Linked DNA regions of Homo sapiens. The protein of the gene in region 4 purifies or fractionates together with the protein of the main gene of each other region. This does not show direct contact. Each region holds a gene or a part of one and is shown on either strand. Other genes may lie near its edges.

Region 1 (4,092 bases), on a different chromosome or scaffold from region 4:
GCAATAACATAGAATATATTAAAGCTTAGGTGTTGGAAAGTTTAAACCAGAAATACATAAAAATATATTATTATACAGTGTACAATTGACCAGACAACTGACCACAAAATAGGTAATAGGGAAAATTAAGACCAACCCAAAATAGGTGATACACTGATAAAGAGGCTCCTTTCCCCAAATTGAGGAAATTGTAGCTGAGTTTGCATGCATGCATTGCAGTATGAGCTTGTTGATCATGCTTTTTGTTAAATATGGAAGTAATATTCTCCATATACTCTGGTAATATGCCAATTTTTGTTAGGAATACAAAATTTGAGTAATCTGAATTTAAAATATATGACATTGTCCATTTTTTGTCCTTAAAAACCAAAATAATTCCATTTTTGAGTCAGTTTGAGGCCTATTAGGAAGACTCTTAAGGACCAGTATTTGAGAATCACAAATATAATGCATTTTGGTTTTTTTTGTTTTTTTTTTTTTATGACAGTCTTGCTCTGTCACCCAGGCTGGAGTGCAGTGATGCAGTCTTGGCTCACTGCAGTCTCCACCTCCAAGATTCAAACAGTTCTTATGCTTCAGCCTTCCAAGAAGCTGGGATTACAGACACACTCCAGCATACCACCATGCCCGGCTATAATGCATTTTCTTTTATTTTAGCTTATTTTTTTTTTGAGATGGAGTCTCACTCTGTCGCCCAGGCTGGGGTGCAGTGGCACTTTCTTGGCTTACTGCAACTTCCGCCTCCTGGGTTCAGGCAATTCTCCTGCTTCATCCTGGGATTACAGGCGCCCACCACCACGCCCAGCTAATTTTTGTATTTTTAGTAGAGACAGGGTTTCAAACCATGTTGGCCAGGCTGGTCTCAAACTCCAGACCTCAAGTGATCCGCTTGTCTTGGCCTCCCAGAATGTTGGGATTACAGGTGTGAGCAACCACACGCGGCCTATAATGCCTTTTTAAAGCACTGGTTTGGAGGGTTGGACTAGACAACCTGTAAGTCTCTTCTAGTTCTGAGGGTTTTGTGATTTTTGTGACCTGGGCCTGAAAAGGGTAAAAATACTTGTTTGGATAGTGTATTTTGTAGTGCTTTCCTTTGAGTAATGGTGTAATATTGTATTTTATGGTGAGGTATGGTTTTTGAAAGCTAAGAAACTTAATTTGGAAGATACTTTTCCTGCCAACTAAGTTTAATTTCTTGCATTTTAAATGTTAATAATTTGATGAGAACGTAATACAATGCAAAAGTTAGGACTTTTGTAATTGTTAGGTCTAATTGGTCATTACATTATTATTGACCAGTTTTTTTTACGGAAACTTTCTTAAAAACTCTTGCATTGGGAAATTTTAGGGAAATCACTTTATCAAAACTTGGAGATAGTCATTATCGTTAAGGGGTCTTCATATACTGCATACCCCCCGTTAGAGGATGGAATGCAGAACTCACTATACCCTGTCTGCATAGAAGAGGGAAGAAACTCAATCCCAAAGTAATATGGAAGCAGTCTCACATGTATTGTTGGTTATATATGATATCCAGTATTTTTATTTTTCCTTTTAGTGAGATTACGTACTATAGGTGAACTTTTAGCTCCTGCAGCTCCTTTTGACAAGAAATGTGGTCGTGAAAATTGGACTGTTGCTTTTGCTCCAGATGGTTCATACTTTGCTTGGTCACAAGGACATCGCACAGTAAAGCTTGTTCCGTGGTCCCAGTGCCTTCAGAACTTGTAAGACTGTTACTTTTCTGTATTTTGTATCTGTTTGTGGAATTTACCATTTTCTCTCAGTGTAGGGTAATAAAAACATTTTGATATTTAAGTTTTACTTTATAGATGATGTCGTGAGTTTTAATCATGGGCTGAATATATTTATTGGAAATTTTGTGTAAAGAATTCTTTGGGCCGGGCGCGGCGGCTCAGGCCTATAATCCCAGCACTTTGGGAGGCCAAGGCAGGCAGATCACTTGAGGTCAGGAGTTTGATACCCGCCTGGCCAACATGGTGAAACCCCATCTCTACTGAAAATACAAGAACTAGCTGGGCGTGGTGTGGCACACCTGTAGTCCCAGCTACTCGGGAGGCTGAGGCAGAAGAATTGCTTGAACCCAGGAGCCGGAGGTTGTAGTGAGTCGAGATAGCACCACTGCACTCCAGCCTGGGTGACAGAGCCAAATAATGTCTCAAAAAAAAAAAAAAAAAAAGAATTGTCTGGTGTTATTTATACATTAAGTTTTTCTGTATGTTAAAAGTCAGATTGTGTCTAACAAGTGTATATATATATATAGTGTTGTGCCAGAGTAGGTGACTTCTGTGATGTGAAGCTTTTTGGATTCACTTTGGATTTTACATTTTGTTGGATAACCCTGGTGCATAGTAGTAGAGACAGGGGTTTCACCGTGTTGGCCAGGCTGGTCTCGAACTCCTGACTTTAGGTGATCCACCCTCCTCAGCCTCCCTAAGTGCTGGGATTACAGGCGTGAGCCACCGAGCCTGGCCCTTTGTTGTTGTTGTTGTTGTTTTTGTTTTTAATGGACTTATAGTCCCTCTGTTTGGGGTAAATTGAGTTTGGATGTTTGTTGAAAGTTTTTCTAAAATGTATCATGTGCTATATTGGATCTTTCCCTGTTTTTTTTGTGTCTAGCAGACCTTCATGGTTATAGTCACTAATGTTCTCATTACATATAACTTGAGGTCTGGAACCTATGGGAAACTGATCATTATGGTTTGAGGATTTTTTTCCCCCTTTAAGGCAATTTTCTGATATCAGCTTGACCATATCTTAAGTTACTGGGTTTTTTTGTTTGTTTGTTTGTTTTTTGCTTATTTATACTTGTGTTTTTAGGTTGAAGGAGCACCAGTTGATTCGGTGGTTTTGAGGAAAATTTGGGAGGCAAATAAGTTATAATATAAATTGCTTTATTGTTGAACTTACTACTCAGTCACTGAGAATTTCTATTAATGTCCTTCTCTCGTAGTTCAAATATCAACCTTTCCCTTCCTATCTATAGGATTCTATTGTTATTTGGTGTCATTATAATAATATTGAGGTTATTTTAACAAACACTTGTAATTATTCAATGTCCAGAGGAGTCCAGAGTGAATAATAATACAATTTCCATCTGACTTCCCCCACTCCAGTCTCTTGCATGGCACCAAGAATGTTACCAATTCAAGCAGTTTAAGATTGCCAAGACAAAATAGTGATGGTGGTCAGAAAAATAAGCCTCGTGAACATATTATAGACTGTGGAGATATAGTCTGGAGTCTTGCTTTTGGGTCATCAGTTCCAGAAAAACAGAGTCGCTGTGTAAATATAGAATGGCATCGCTTCAGATTTGGACAAGATCAGCTACTTCTTGCTACAGGGTTGAACAATGGGCGTATCAAAATATGGGATGTATATACAGGTATGGATTCATAGTTTTTAAAGCAAATGTATTATTTTATGATGCAGGGCACTGCTTATAGGCACTGGAATTGGGATTTGAGGATTTCAGCTTACTGAAAAGCAAGAATTGATGGCATAGGTGCGTCTTTATAATAGACCTGAATGTCACCTTCTTCAGCTCATGATTTTAATTTAGGAAAACTATGGAGTTCATATTGCTTCATCACTCTTTAGAGAGTATTACAGTAGGAAAGGGTTTTCCAGGGAATGTTTAGTTAGTTGTCCTTTATAAACTAGTTATTTAGTTAATGACTCACATGTCAAGGTGTTTTCTTTGTTTATGCTTTTTCAATGATTGATAGCTTAGAGGTTTTCGAGGTAAATCAGATTTCAGTAATCATCTCACCTTGGAAAGGTTTAGTGAAAGTTTAGATAGATTGAGAAGTTAAATTCTTTGGGCAACTAGAAATAAATGTGTTGCTTATTGCCTAAAACACTTTCTGGCATATAATATGTACTCAAAAACATAAAGGATTTTTAAAGAAGCATTAAAAGAACATGTACATTAGAACATAACAAGTGATACTAACATAGGTGATAATGAGTCAAAATTTGGGTTCTTGAAAAAAACAAGATGAACACATAGATTGTCTTAGAAAACAAAGCTCTTACATTATTAGTTAAATACATTTTTTTTCACTGGGA
Region 2 (2,922 bases), on a different chromosome or scaffold from region 4:
TACCAGCATTAATTTGACTTCTTTCACAGTTTACCACTTACCCGTGTTTATGAGTACTACATTATACCTAAGATAATATATTTGAAATATGTTTTGAAATCTTACATATAATTCGAGGTTAGAGGGGCAAAATAAATGAAAAGCATTTCTTATAGCGTGTTTATTTTTAGAAAGAAATACTTGTTTTAAAAAGTAAAGTTGTTTTTGAGCTATAAGCATTGATATATTTACTTTTTATATATTTCAGGACCACATTTTAACCCCAGCGCTATTCATAACTTTTATGACAATATTGGATTTGTAGGTCCTGTGCCACCAAAACCCAAAGGTTAGTGTATCCATTAAATGTGAAAACTGTTACTTTTGAAAAGCAAAATTTTAGAAAATTTTTCCTGTTCAGCAACCTTCCTCTCTAGAATTGCTTCAAACTTTGGCATTCTTAAATGAATTCATTAAGAAGATGTTTGCTTATTTTCATTTACATGCTTGGGGTTGGGAAGGATGCAAAGATGTAATATTCTTAGCTTTTTAAAAGTAATATGCACGAGCTTAGGAAACACTATGTACTCCCAACCAATAATAGCAAGTCTTGGTTAAAAAACAATTACTAAGTACAAAAATTTGTATCATTTAAAACTTTAGACAAATGATAAGGAAGATACCTTAGGGAAGTTCCCCCCCCCCATGAGTATTTAGTTTAATTTATATATAACTTTAAGTAATCAAAATACCCTAAATTCCAGGTGAATAGTTTTCTACCTTCTATCATTTTACATCATTGATATTCTCAGAATATATGCACACCAAACTAAGACATTTCAAAGTATGTCTGTGTGTTTTGATCCAGGCATTAAAATGTGTGTAGAAATGGAAACAGGTACATAAATATCACTGCTGAAGGTAAAAATATAGACATATTTACAGATTAACACTTAACCGTGGTATATAATTTACTTTCAACTCTAATAAGAAAGTTAAAAGGTAAAAATGTGTTAATGGATACATAATATTAAAAGAAGAAAACTGCAAGAACACAAAAGTGTGGGAGGGTGGAGGTTGTAAAGATGCAGTAGTATTTTTGTATGCATTTGAAGTTAAGTTGTTATCAACTTAAAATAGAAGAGTATAACCAAATATAATCAAAGTAAATCACGATTAAACGTTGTCGAATAACAAGACAATAAGAGGAAAAGAGGAGCAAAACAGTTGTCAAATAGACAGGAAGCAACAAACTGCCAATAGTAAGTCCTCACTTATTAGTAATTACCTTAACTGGAAATGGATTAAACTCACCACTCACAAGGAGTTGTATGAATGGATTTTAAAAACAGGATCTGGCAGCAGCCAATGGGAGGCCCCAACAGCTCGTGCTGGCGCACACAGCGGGAGGGGAGGGAGCCCAGGATGTGCACGCACCCTCTCCCTCATCCACCGCTGTCACCTCCTGCTGCTCTTCCTGCTGCTCGTGTACTCGTTAGGTGCGGACCCGCCACCTCTTTTGTGAAGCAGCAGCTGAGGAGACTCCGGTGTTCACCATGGCCAACGAAAAGCCCACAGAAGAAGTCAAGACTGAGAACAACAATCATATTAATTTGAAGGTGGCGGGACAGGATGGTTCTGTGGTGCAGTTTAAGATTAAGAGGCAGACACCACTTAGTAAACTAATGAAAGCCTATTGTGAACCACGGGGATTGTCAGTGAAGCAGATCAGATTCCGATTTGGTGGGCAACCAATCAGTGGAACAGACAAACCTGCACAGTTGGAAATGGAAGATGAAGATACAATTGATGTGTTTCAACAGCCTACGGGAGGTGTCTACTGAAAAGGGAACCTGCTTCTTTACTCCAGAACGCTGTTCTTTAAAGACCAAGATTACTGCATTCTCAATTAGAAAACTGCAATTTGGTTCCACCACATTCTGACTACTACAGTATAGTTTTCTCTATTCTTTTGTTTCCCCCTTCCACATTCTTTTATTATACATGAAGTAACTGGTATGTGTACACAAGCATATTGCTTTTTTCTTCAAACCAAACAGCCAATGGTATGTTTTGATTGACATCAAGTGGAGACAGGATGGGAAAAAATACTGATTCTGTGAAAATACCCCCTTTATCCATTAGTGGCATGTTCATTCAGGTCTTATCTTTATATTCTAGTAAGTTATTTTGCTCTCACTGTTTTAACAACAACAAAAAAAAATTCTCACATACCTTGTTCAATTGGAGGATTTTCATGTTTTTCATTTATCATTGTAAAACCAAGGACAATTTTATAACTTTTGTGTACATAGCTGTTACATGTAGGGCAATCTGTCTTTAAGTAGGGATAAATTACTCTAAAAAAAAAAGAAAGAATCCTAGAAAGTTTTTCCTTCAAGTCAGGCTTCTTATTTAAATAAACTTTTTGTTTAAAATGAAATAAAAATAAAAACAGGATCCAATAATATACTATCTACAAGAGACTCATTTTATATTTAAAGACACACATAGGCAGAAAGTGAAGGGATGGAAAAAGATTTTATATAAATGGTAGCTAAAAGAAATCAAAAGTGGCTATAATTATATCAGAAACAATAGATTTTTAAGTCTAAAACTTGAGACAAAGATTATTATGTAATGGTAAAAGGATCAATTCCACAGAAAAATATAAAAATTATAAATATATACACACCCCACATCAGACTACATTAATATGTAAAGCAAATAATGACAGTTCTGACGACAGAAATTGACAGCAATAGTAGGAGACTTCAATACCCCCCTTACAATAATAGAATATCCAGGCAGAAAATGAATAAAGAAACAGCTGATTTGAACAAGCACACACGGAACATTCTGTAGGATAGATCATATGTTAGTTCACAAAACGAGTTTAAACAAACCTAAGAAGATAGAAATCATTCCACGTATTTTTTCTAA
Region 3 (4,092 bases), about 41 Mb from region 4:
CCCACCTCGGCCTCCCAAAGTGCTGGGATTACAGGCTTAAGCCACCACGCCTGGCCTTGTCTTTTTAATAGAGTTTCACCATGTTGGCTAGGCTGGTCTAGAACGGCTGGTCCAGAACTCCTGACCTCAGGTGATTCGCCCACCTCTTCCCCAAAGTGCTGGGATTATAGGCGTGAGCCACCACCCTGGGCCTTTTTGTTTGTTTGTTTTGTTTTGTTTTTTGAGATGGAGTCTCGCTCTGTTGCCCAGGCTGGAGTGCAGTGACACAATCTCAGCTCACCACAACCTCTGCCTCCTGGGTTCAAGCGATTCTCCTGCCTCAGCCTCCCCGGTAGCTGGGACTACAGGTGCGCACCACCACGCCTGGCTAATTTTTGGTTTTTGCTTTTTTGCTTTTGTTTTGTTTTTTTTTGGTTTTTTTTTTGAGATGGAGTCTCGCTCTGTTGCCCAGGCTGGAGTGCAGTGGTGCGATCTCAGCTGATTGCAAGCTCCGCCTCCCTGGTTCAAGCAATTCTCCTGCCTCAGCCTCCCGAGTAGTTGGGACTACAGGCACCCGCCACCATGCCTGGCTAATTTTTTGTATTTTTAGTAGAGTCGGGGTTTCACCGTGTTAGCCAGGATTGTCTCGATCTCCTGACCTCGTGATCCACCCGCCTCAGCCTCCAAAAGTGCTGGGATTACAGGCGTGAGCCACCGCGCCTGGCCTTGTGTTTTTAATAGAGACGGGGTTTCACTGTGTTGGCCAGGCTGATCTTGAACTCCTGACCTTGTGATCTGCCTGCCTCGGCCTCACAAAGTGCTGGGGATTATAGGAGTGAGCCATGGTGCCCAGCCTTCTTGAGCTTTTAAGGAGTTGTTTTTACATATACCTTAAGAGGATGATCTTCTGCACAGAACATTTCTTCTATAATAATTTCCATTAACTCTAGATGAATAGTGTAATCTCTTGAGTTGAAAGAGTTTAACTAGCTTCTAGGCCTCTAATTGACTTAAGGTCACTCAGAACAAGGAGATTGATTGCTCTGATGCAACCAGCTGTTTAATTGTGAAGTAGCCTTAAGCTGTTGAATTTAGTCAAATTTGTGAAGTAGCTGACAGATCAAGTTTTGCTAGTAGGCCAGGCGTGGGGACTCATGCTTGTAATCCCAGCACTTTGGGAGGCCAAGGCAGGCAGATCACTTGAGGTCAGGAGTTCAAGACCAGTCTGGCCAACATGGCGAAACCCCATCTCTACAAAATAATACAAAAATTAGCTGAGCGTCCTGGTGCACACCTGTAATCCCAACTACTCAGGAGGCCGAGGTGGGAGAATCGCTTGAACCTAGGAGGCAGAGGTTGCAGTGAGCCAAGATAGCACCACTACACTCCAGCCTGGGTGACAGAGCGAGACTTTGTCTCAAAATAAAATAAACCAAAAATATATGCTTTTTATTTACCAACTTTTTTTTTTTTTTTCCGAGACAGAGTCTCTGTCGCTCAGGCTGCAGTGCAGTGGCACGACCTCGGCTCACTGCAACCTCCGCCTCCCAGGTTCAAGCAATTTTCCTGCCTTGGCCTCCCGAGTAGCTGGGACCACAGGTGCAAGCCACCACGCCCATCTAATTTTTGTATTTTTAGTAGAGATGGGGTTTTGCCTTGTTGGCCAGGATGGTCTTGATCTGTTGACCTCTTGATCCGCGCTCCTCAGCCTCCCAAAGTTCTGGGATTACAGGTGTGAGCCACCGTGCTTGGCCTGTTTATCAACTTTTTAAAAAGTGACATGGGCTGGGTGCAGTGGCTCACGCCTGTAATCTCAGCACTTTGGGAGGCCGAGGAAGGTGGATAACCTGAGGTCAGGAGTTTGAGACCGGCCTGGCCAATATGGTGAAACCCCATCTCTACTAAAGATACAAAAAATTAGGCATGGTGGCGCACGCCTGTAATCCCAGCTACTCAGAAGGCCAAGGCACAAGAATCGCTTGAACCCCGGAGGCGGAGGTTGCAGTGAGCTGAGATCGCACCATTGCACTCCAGCCTGGGCGACAGGGTGAGACTCCGTCTCAAAAAATAAAAGTGGCATGAGTTAATAATGTAAGCTAGGTAACGCTTCTTGGCTACATGGGTGACCTTGTGCAAGTTAACTTAGCTAAGCCCCAATTTCCTCATTTATAAAAAGAGGTATATGTTACCTTACAGGATTATTGTAAGAAAAGAAAAAGTAATACTGCAAATAGATAGCACAGTACCTGTTGCATAGTAAGTGCTTAAAGAATGGAAGCCTCGGCCGGGTGCGGTGGCTCACTCCTGTAATCCCAGAACTTTGAGGGGCCAAGGTGGGCAAATCACCTGAGGTCGGGAGTTCAAGACTAACCTGACCAACATGGTGAAACCCCCCTCTACTAAAAATACAAAATTAAGCCAGGCATGGTGGTGCATCCTGTAATCTCAGCTACTCAGGAGGCTGAGGCAGGAGAATGGCGTGAACCCGGGAGGCGGAGCTTGCAGTGAGCCGAGATCGCGCCACTGTACTCCAGCCTCGGCGACAGAGCGAGAATCCATCTCAAAAAAAAAAAAAAAAAAGAATGGAAGTCTTTGTTATTAAATAACAATTGCATATCACTGTTTGATCCTTGGCACATACAGTGAATTTTCTTTGAAAGATGGAACATAGAATTCATTATTAAAACCTAGTGTCTTTTTTTTTTATTTTTTGAGACGGAGTCTCACTCTGTCGCCCAGGCTGGAGTACAGTGGCACGATCTTGGCTCACTGCAAGCTCCACCTGCCAGATTCACGCCATTCTCCTGCCTCAGCCTCCCGAGTAGCTGGGACTACAGGCGCCCACCACCACGCCTGGCTAATTTTTTGTATTTTTAGTAGAGACGGGGTTTCACCGTGTTAGCCAGGATGGTCTCGATCTCCTGACCTCATGATCTGCCTGCCTCGGCCTCCGAAAGTGCTGGGATTACAGGCATGAGCCACTGTGCCCGACCCCTTTTTTTTTTTTTAGACAGAGTCTCGCTCTGTGGTCCAGGCTGGAGTGCAGTGGCACTATCTCGGCTCACTGCAACCTCCACCTCCCGGGTTCAAGCAATTCTCCTGCCTCAGCCTCCCGAGTAGCTGGGATTATAGGCGCCGGCCCACACCACGCCTGGCTGATTTTTTGTGTTTTTAGAAGAGACCAGGTTTCACCATGTTGGCCAGGCTGGTCTTGAACTCCTGACCTCAAATGATCTGCCAGCCTCAGCCTCCCAAAGTGCTGGCATTATAGGCATGAGCTGCCGTGTCTGGCTGTAAAACCTGCTGTCTTAACACATTGAACGTCAAGTCATGGTGTAGTGAAAAAGATCATGATTAAACATATCAGAGGGCCAGGCATGGTGGCTCACACCTATAATCCCAGCACTTTGGGAGGCCAAGGCAGGCAGATCACCTGAGGTCGGGAGTTTCTAGACTAGCCTAACCAACATGGAGAAACCCCGTCTCTACTAAAAATACAAAATTAGCCGGGTATGGTGGCACATGCCTGTAATCCCAGCTACTCAGGAGGCTGAGGCAGGAGAATCACTTGAACTTGGGAGGCGGAGGTTGCAGTGAGCTAAGATTGCGCCATTGCACTCCAGCCTGGGCAACAAGAGTGAAACTCTGTCTCAGAAAACCATATCAGAGTTCAAACTTGACTTTAGCATTTAACCTAATACTATGAGCCTTAGTTTACTCATCTTTAAAATGGCAGTCATTATATACTTTGTAGTAGTAAGCATTGGGAATAATGTTTTAGTGTACATTAGATAGTATTACAAATCACTTAGTGCCTGGGTCATAATAGTTATTCAGTGAAATGGTTATGATTGTTATTCTCTACTTTCAAACATACTCAATATATAACAACCCATCATATAACTAACCATCAACCCAAATAGCCCCAATTCATGGAGGACAGACGATATCCCTGCCTAATTCTTCTTTGCTGATAATTCCTTTTTTTTTCTCCATCTTGCTCCTCTTCTGTCAGTTGATTTATGAAGACTCTATGGATCTAATCGCAAAGCTACCTTGTGTTGCAGCAAAGATCTACCGAAATCTCTACAGAGAAGGCAGCGGTATTGGGGC
Region 4 (4,092 bases):
TTCAAGGCTACACTGGCATACCCAGAGATGAGTCTCATGTTGCCCCTGAAACGTCAGCAACATTTATCTGTGCAATAAGCACATCCTGAATCATCCTGTGTTGTGTTACTCTCTGGTGTCCACAGCCAAAGAGTGAATTTTACCGCTGGTAAAAATTCACTTGGGCTTTCTTAAAGAGCCTAATAATCTTAGCACAAACGGTCATAAAAAAAATTCTCTCTCAATTCTGTCTAACTTTTCATGCTAATTTAAAACTTTTGTGAATATATTGAGATACTGAAGGCAATGGCTTCCTTAATGCACAGTTTTCTTTGAGAATTATTTAAAATAATATTTGTGAAGGTACTTGGTGGCATGACTTCACACGTTGGGCACTCAGCAAAGCTCACGGGATCTCTTTGAGTTCTCTCTCTTTGTGCATATGAATGTGGGTTAGAAAAACACACTAAAAAATGCACAGGCAAGAAATAATAAATTGTTTCTCTCACAAAGACAAATGGTAAGAAATTACGTTTCTAGTAATTTGTGCCCTTCTCTGGATTGATTACAATATTTATTGTCTCTTACAAAATAATCTTGTCTTTGGTTTTTCTCATCCAGTTTTGAAGTTTTCGTAGTCCTTCATGGGGCTGAGGTGGTAGAAAGCAGCACCGCAAAGTGGGGAGTATGGATTCCTCCATGTCACCAGGGACAGGGGCGGTGGGGAGAGGGTGGAATCCCGAACCAAGAAGGCTTCTGGTGTCCTGAGAGACAAATTTGCAATCCCGTAATACACCAAATTGCCAGGCAAGCAGCACAGCACATTCAAATCCTTGACTAGCTCTGAAATGTCAACAGTGTTTTAGAGATGGCCTGACTCTCCAGACCTGCACTAGACCCACAGCCCGATTTGGGGGAAGTCAGACATATCCTAGTCAGCAGGGAAAGTGGAGGTAGCAGGAGTTACAGAGAATGCTGATGCTCACATAGGAACTTCTCTGATAGAAATCCCCTACTTCTGGTATTTCCACTTTTCTCTCTCTCTTCCCTCTCTCTCTTTCTCCCTTCTCCCTCCTCTCTCTCTCCTCTTTCTCTCTCCCTCTTTCCCCTCTTCCTTCTCTCTCTCTCATCGCTATCTCTTCTACCTAATACATTAATATCCATGGCCTGTGTGTCTAGATGCATAATCCAGCACAATTTTGCAGATCCAGCTTTGGGCCGTGAGTTAAGTCTCTGTGGTATTTTGCTCCAGAGCCAGAGGGAATTCTCTTCATTAGCTGTGCCTGTGTTCACTGACATTTCTCATCATTCGCAGAGTGACCTCTGGCTTCAATGAAGACAGGGAGCAATAAATAAAACCTAAAATTAAATTGTTTACATGAAAGTTTTTAAAAGAAATATAATATAGTCTCATTTTAAGGTTGATTCAGTTTTTAAACAATCCTTTCAATTCCCCAGAACTTCTTATCTCTTTAATACTCCTCAAAGACAAAAATCTATTTTTAAGGAGGAAGGAGTGGGGACATAGCTCCCATCCAGGGGAAAGTATTTGGTGTGGAAACAGTTACCTAGCTTCAGTGAAGCTTTGCAACAAAGCAGACCACACTGGGGCAGGGAAGGAAGAAGAGGAAGGGAACAAATATTCACGGAACATCTATTCTTGACCAGTATAGTCCTATAATTTTTCATGTGTTTTCTCCAATCTTTCAACCCCGTAAAAAAGAATATCCCCATTTTAGTGGTGATAAAACTGAGGCTCAGTGAAATTAGCAACTTGATTGAGTCCTGTCATAATGCAGAGCCTGGTTTTGAATCCCTGGTCCATCTGACTCAATCTATGTTCTATGAGACATGAAAGTCACCTTTCTCTGAATTACCCAGGTAATTTGTTTAATCTAAACTCAGGAGTTCTACCTTTTCTTGTCCTCAGTTCATTTAGAGCTGCATTAATGAAACAGATGATGCTCTATCCTGACATGGGTGTAAATTTTTAAGTGTAATTCACTTTCAAAGTCTTGGAAATTTCACTGAATTTGCAAGCAAAAACATTGATGTGTGCTATGTCATATGCATGCTGTGAGTAACCATCCTAATTTAATTCGACATTTTAATTGAGCCTGAGAAGATTAAGTCCCCATCTCAGCACATCTAATGCTTGCCAGTGCTTTGCTGAGTAGCAAACATGAGGATGTGAGGCCTCCAATGTGAAAGTTAATCTGTATGCGCATCTGTGAAGCAGAAAATACAGAAAACTAGAGTAGCAAGCCTGTGTGAAAAAATGATATGTGCTTTGGGGCCTAATAAATGGGGTCCACATTAACCTGGTTAAACATATAACTGTTCATTCTCCATTTCATTTTTCCTGTGCAAAGGACCAAAGTCAAAAATAAGCAAAACTCAGCTCTGCCCTTTGTAGAATAGGGGATGAGCAGCTGAGGAAGGTGAGGAAAGCCCATCCAGAAGATTCTATGCTGATGGGCTGAGTCCTCCCCAATCTCCCTTTTACTTCCTCTTTTCTTTTCTCATTTCACAAGCTTCTTTAAATTAGGGAGCATTTGAGTCATTAAATTAAGAAGGGGCCTCAGAGATCCTCTCATGCCACGGCTTCTTTTTGCAGAGGATGAAACTGGGGCCCAGTGAGGTTAAGCAACTTGCAGGAGGTAACGCAGGAACCGAGTTGCGCTGAAACATCGTTATCTGACACTTCCCTGCTTTGTTAAAGCTGTCTCTGCAGAGCTTGCAAAGAAGCATTTACCTCTGCTTGTGCACCTCCAGGTAGATTCCCAAGATGACTAACAAACTCTAATTTTATTATAACTTCTTAAAGATGACTGAAGCAATAAAGCATAGTGCCTAAAAGTCAGACAACCTGGGCGCAGACATTAATTCTGCCTACCACGTGGTATGTCTTCTTAGGCAAGTTACTTAACGTGAACTTTAGTTTCCTGGTCTGGAAAAGAGAATGATGATGCCAACAAAGTTACTGTAAGAACTAAATGAGATAATCCTCTAGAAAGCACTTAGCACTACATGTGATAACTATTATAATTTGTATTAATAATATCAATATTATCAATAGGAAAATCAGTTGTCCTTTAGATGATGGGATTGGAAAACAGTCTGTAGAATTTTCATAAAATTCCTATTCTCATTTCAACACACATCCATAAAATAGGAGGATAAAAAGAGAAAATTGTTGTTTGTGGTTAAATATGCACACAGATAATTTGAGAAATCATTGTCAAACTGTATATGCCATTTATGGCTGGGGCTTCGGGAGAAACTGAGGTTACCCAGAAATAACGTTAAAAATGCAGTACAATGCTTAATAATATTGTATTGTACTTGAGTTTTGCTGAAGAGTAGATTTTAGGTGCTCTTGCCACACACAAAAAAAAGTGGGTGAGATGATGGATATGTTAATTTGCTTGACTATAGTAACCTTTTCACTATCTATGTATCCCAGACATATTTTACATCTTAAATATATACAATAAATACTTTTTAAGAAATTGATTCATAGGAGGTATTTATGTATTCCCGATATCAATCTCTTGTTAATACATGCATTGCGAATGTCTCATTTTTAGAATCCAGACCATTACTCTTTTCACTGTCTATAGGGTGATATTAGGAAAGGAATTTTAAATGCTTGTGTAATTGAAATATTTAATATTTTCTTCTATGTCTTAGTTTTTGCACTTGTAAAATGTAATTGTGCCTACCTCACAACATTGCGATGACTGAATGAAATAATGCATGCCAAGCACTTATCCCGTACTAACTGAGTTTTTGGCTCACAAGTGTTCAGTAACAATTTGCTATTACTATTATGGTACCCTTTATTATGCAAAGACCTGTTCAGTGAAAGAAAAATAATTTTATGTCTGGGAGAAAAATAAGTAAAATAAAATAAAATAAAATATGCAGCATCTGTTGGGGATTCACATACATTTTATTTTTTAATTTTTAAATTTCCTTTTAAAGATGAATTTTATTGCATATATTTAAGGTATACAACATAATGTTTAGGGACACACATCGATAGTAAAAATGTTAGTGAAGCAAATCAACATATCCATCATCTCACGTAGTTACCCTTTTTTTGTTTCT

What was found.
Region 1: the proteins of ARHGDIB (region 4) and WSB1 purify together in Homo sapiens (affinity purification with western blotting; one study listed by BioGRID). This does not show direct contact.
Region 2: the proteins of ARHGDIB (region 4) and SUMO4 fractionate together in Homo sapiens (co-fractionation; one large-scale study listed by BioGRID). This does not show direct contact.
Region 3: the proteins of ARHGDIB (region 4) and CS fractionate together in Homo sapiens (co-fractionation; one large-scale study listed by BioGRID). This does not show direct contact.

The regions. Positions count from the first base shown.
Region 1 is NC_000017.11:27,300,230-27,304,321, forward strand, and holds part of WSB1 (WD repeat and SOCS box-containing protein 1), read left to right. Parts: intron 1-1,558; coding exon 1,559-1,727; intron 1,728-3,137; coding exon 3,138-3,406; intron 3,407-4,092. UniProt on the Homo sapiens protein: Probable substrate-recognition component of a SCF-like ECS (Elongin-Cullin-SOCS-box protein) E3 ubiquitin ligase complex which mediates the ubiquitination and subsequent proteasomal degradation of target proteins.
Region 2 is NC_000006.12:149,398,857-149,401,778, forward strand, and holds SUMO4 (small ubiquitin-related modifier 4), read left to right. Parts: upstream 1-1,405; 5' UTR 1,406-1,535; coding exon 1,536-1,823; 3' UTR 1,824-2,422; downstream 2,423-2,922. Other genes in the region: TAB2 (TGF-beta-activated kinase 1 and MAP3K7-binding protein 2), read left to right, coding at 248-328. UniProt on the Homo sapiens protein: Ubiquitin-like protein which can be covalently attached to target lysines as a monomer. Does not seem to be involved in protein degradation and may modulate protein subcellular localization, stability or activity.
Region 3 is NC_000012.12:56,276,098-56,280,189, reverse strand, and holds part of CS (citrate synthase, mitochondrial precursor), read left to right. Parts: intron 1-3,994; coding exon 3,995-4,092. UniProt on the Homo sapiens protein: Key enzyme of the Krebs tricarboxylic acid cycle which catalyzes the synthesis of citrate from acetyl coenzyme A and oxaloacetate.
Region 4 is NC_000012.12:14,954,838-14,958,929, reverse strand, and holds part of ARHGDIB (rho GDP-dissociation inhibitor 2), read left to right. Parts: intron 1-2,596; exon of another isoform or gene 2,597-2,754; intron 2,755-4,092. UniProt on the Homo sapiens protein: Regulates the GDP/GTP exchange reaction of the Rho proteins by inhibiting the dissociation of GDP from them, and the subsequent binding of GTP to them. Regulates reorganization of the actin cytoskeleton mediated by Rho family members.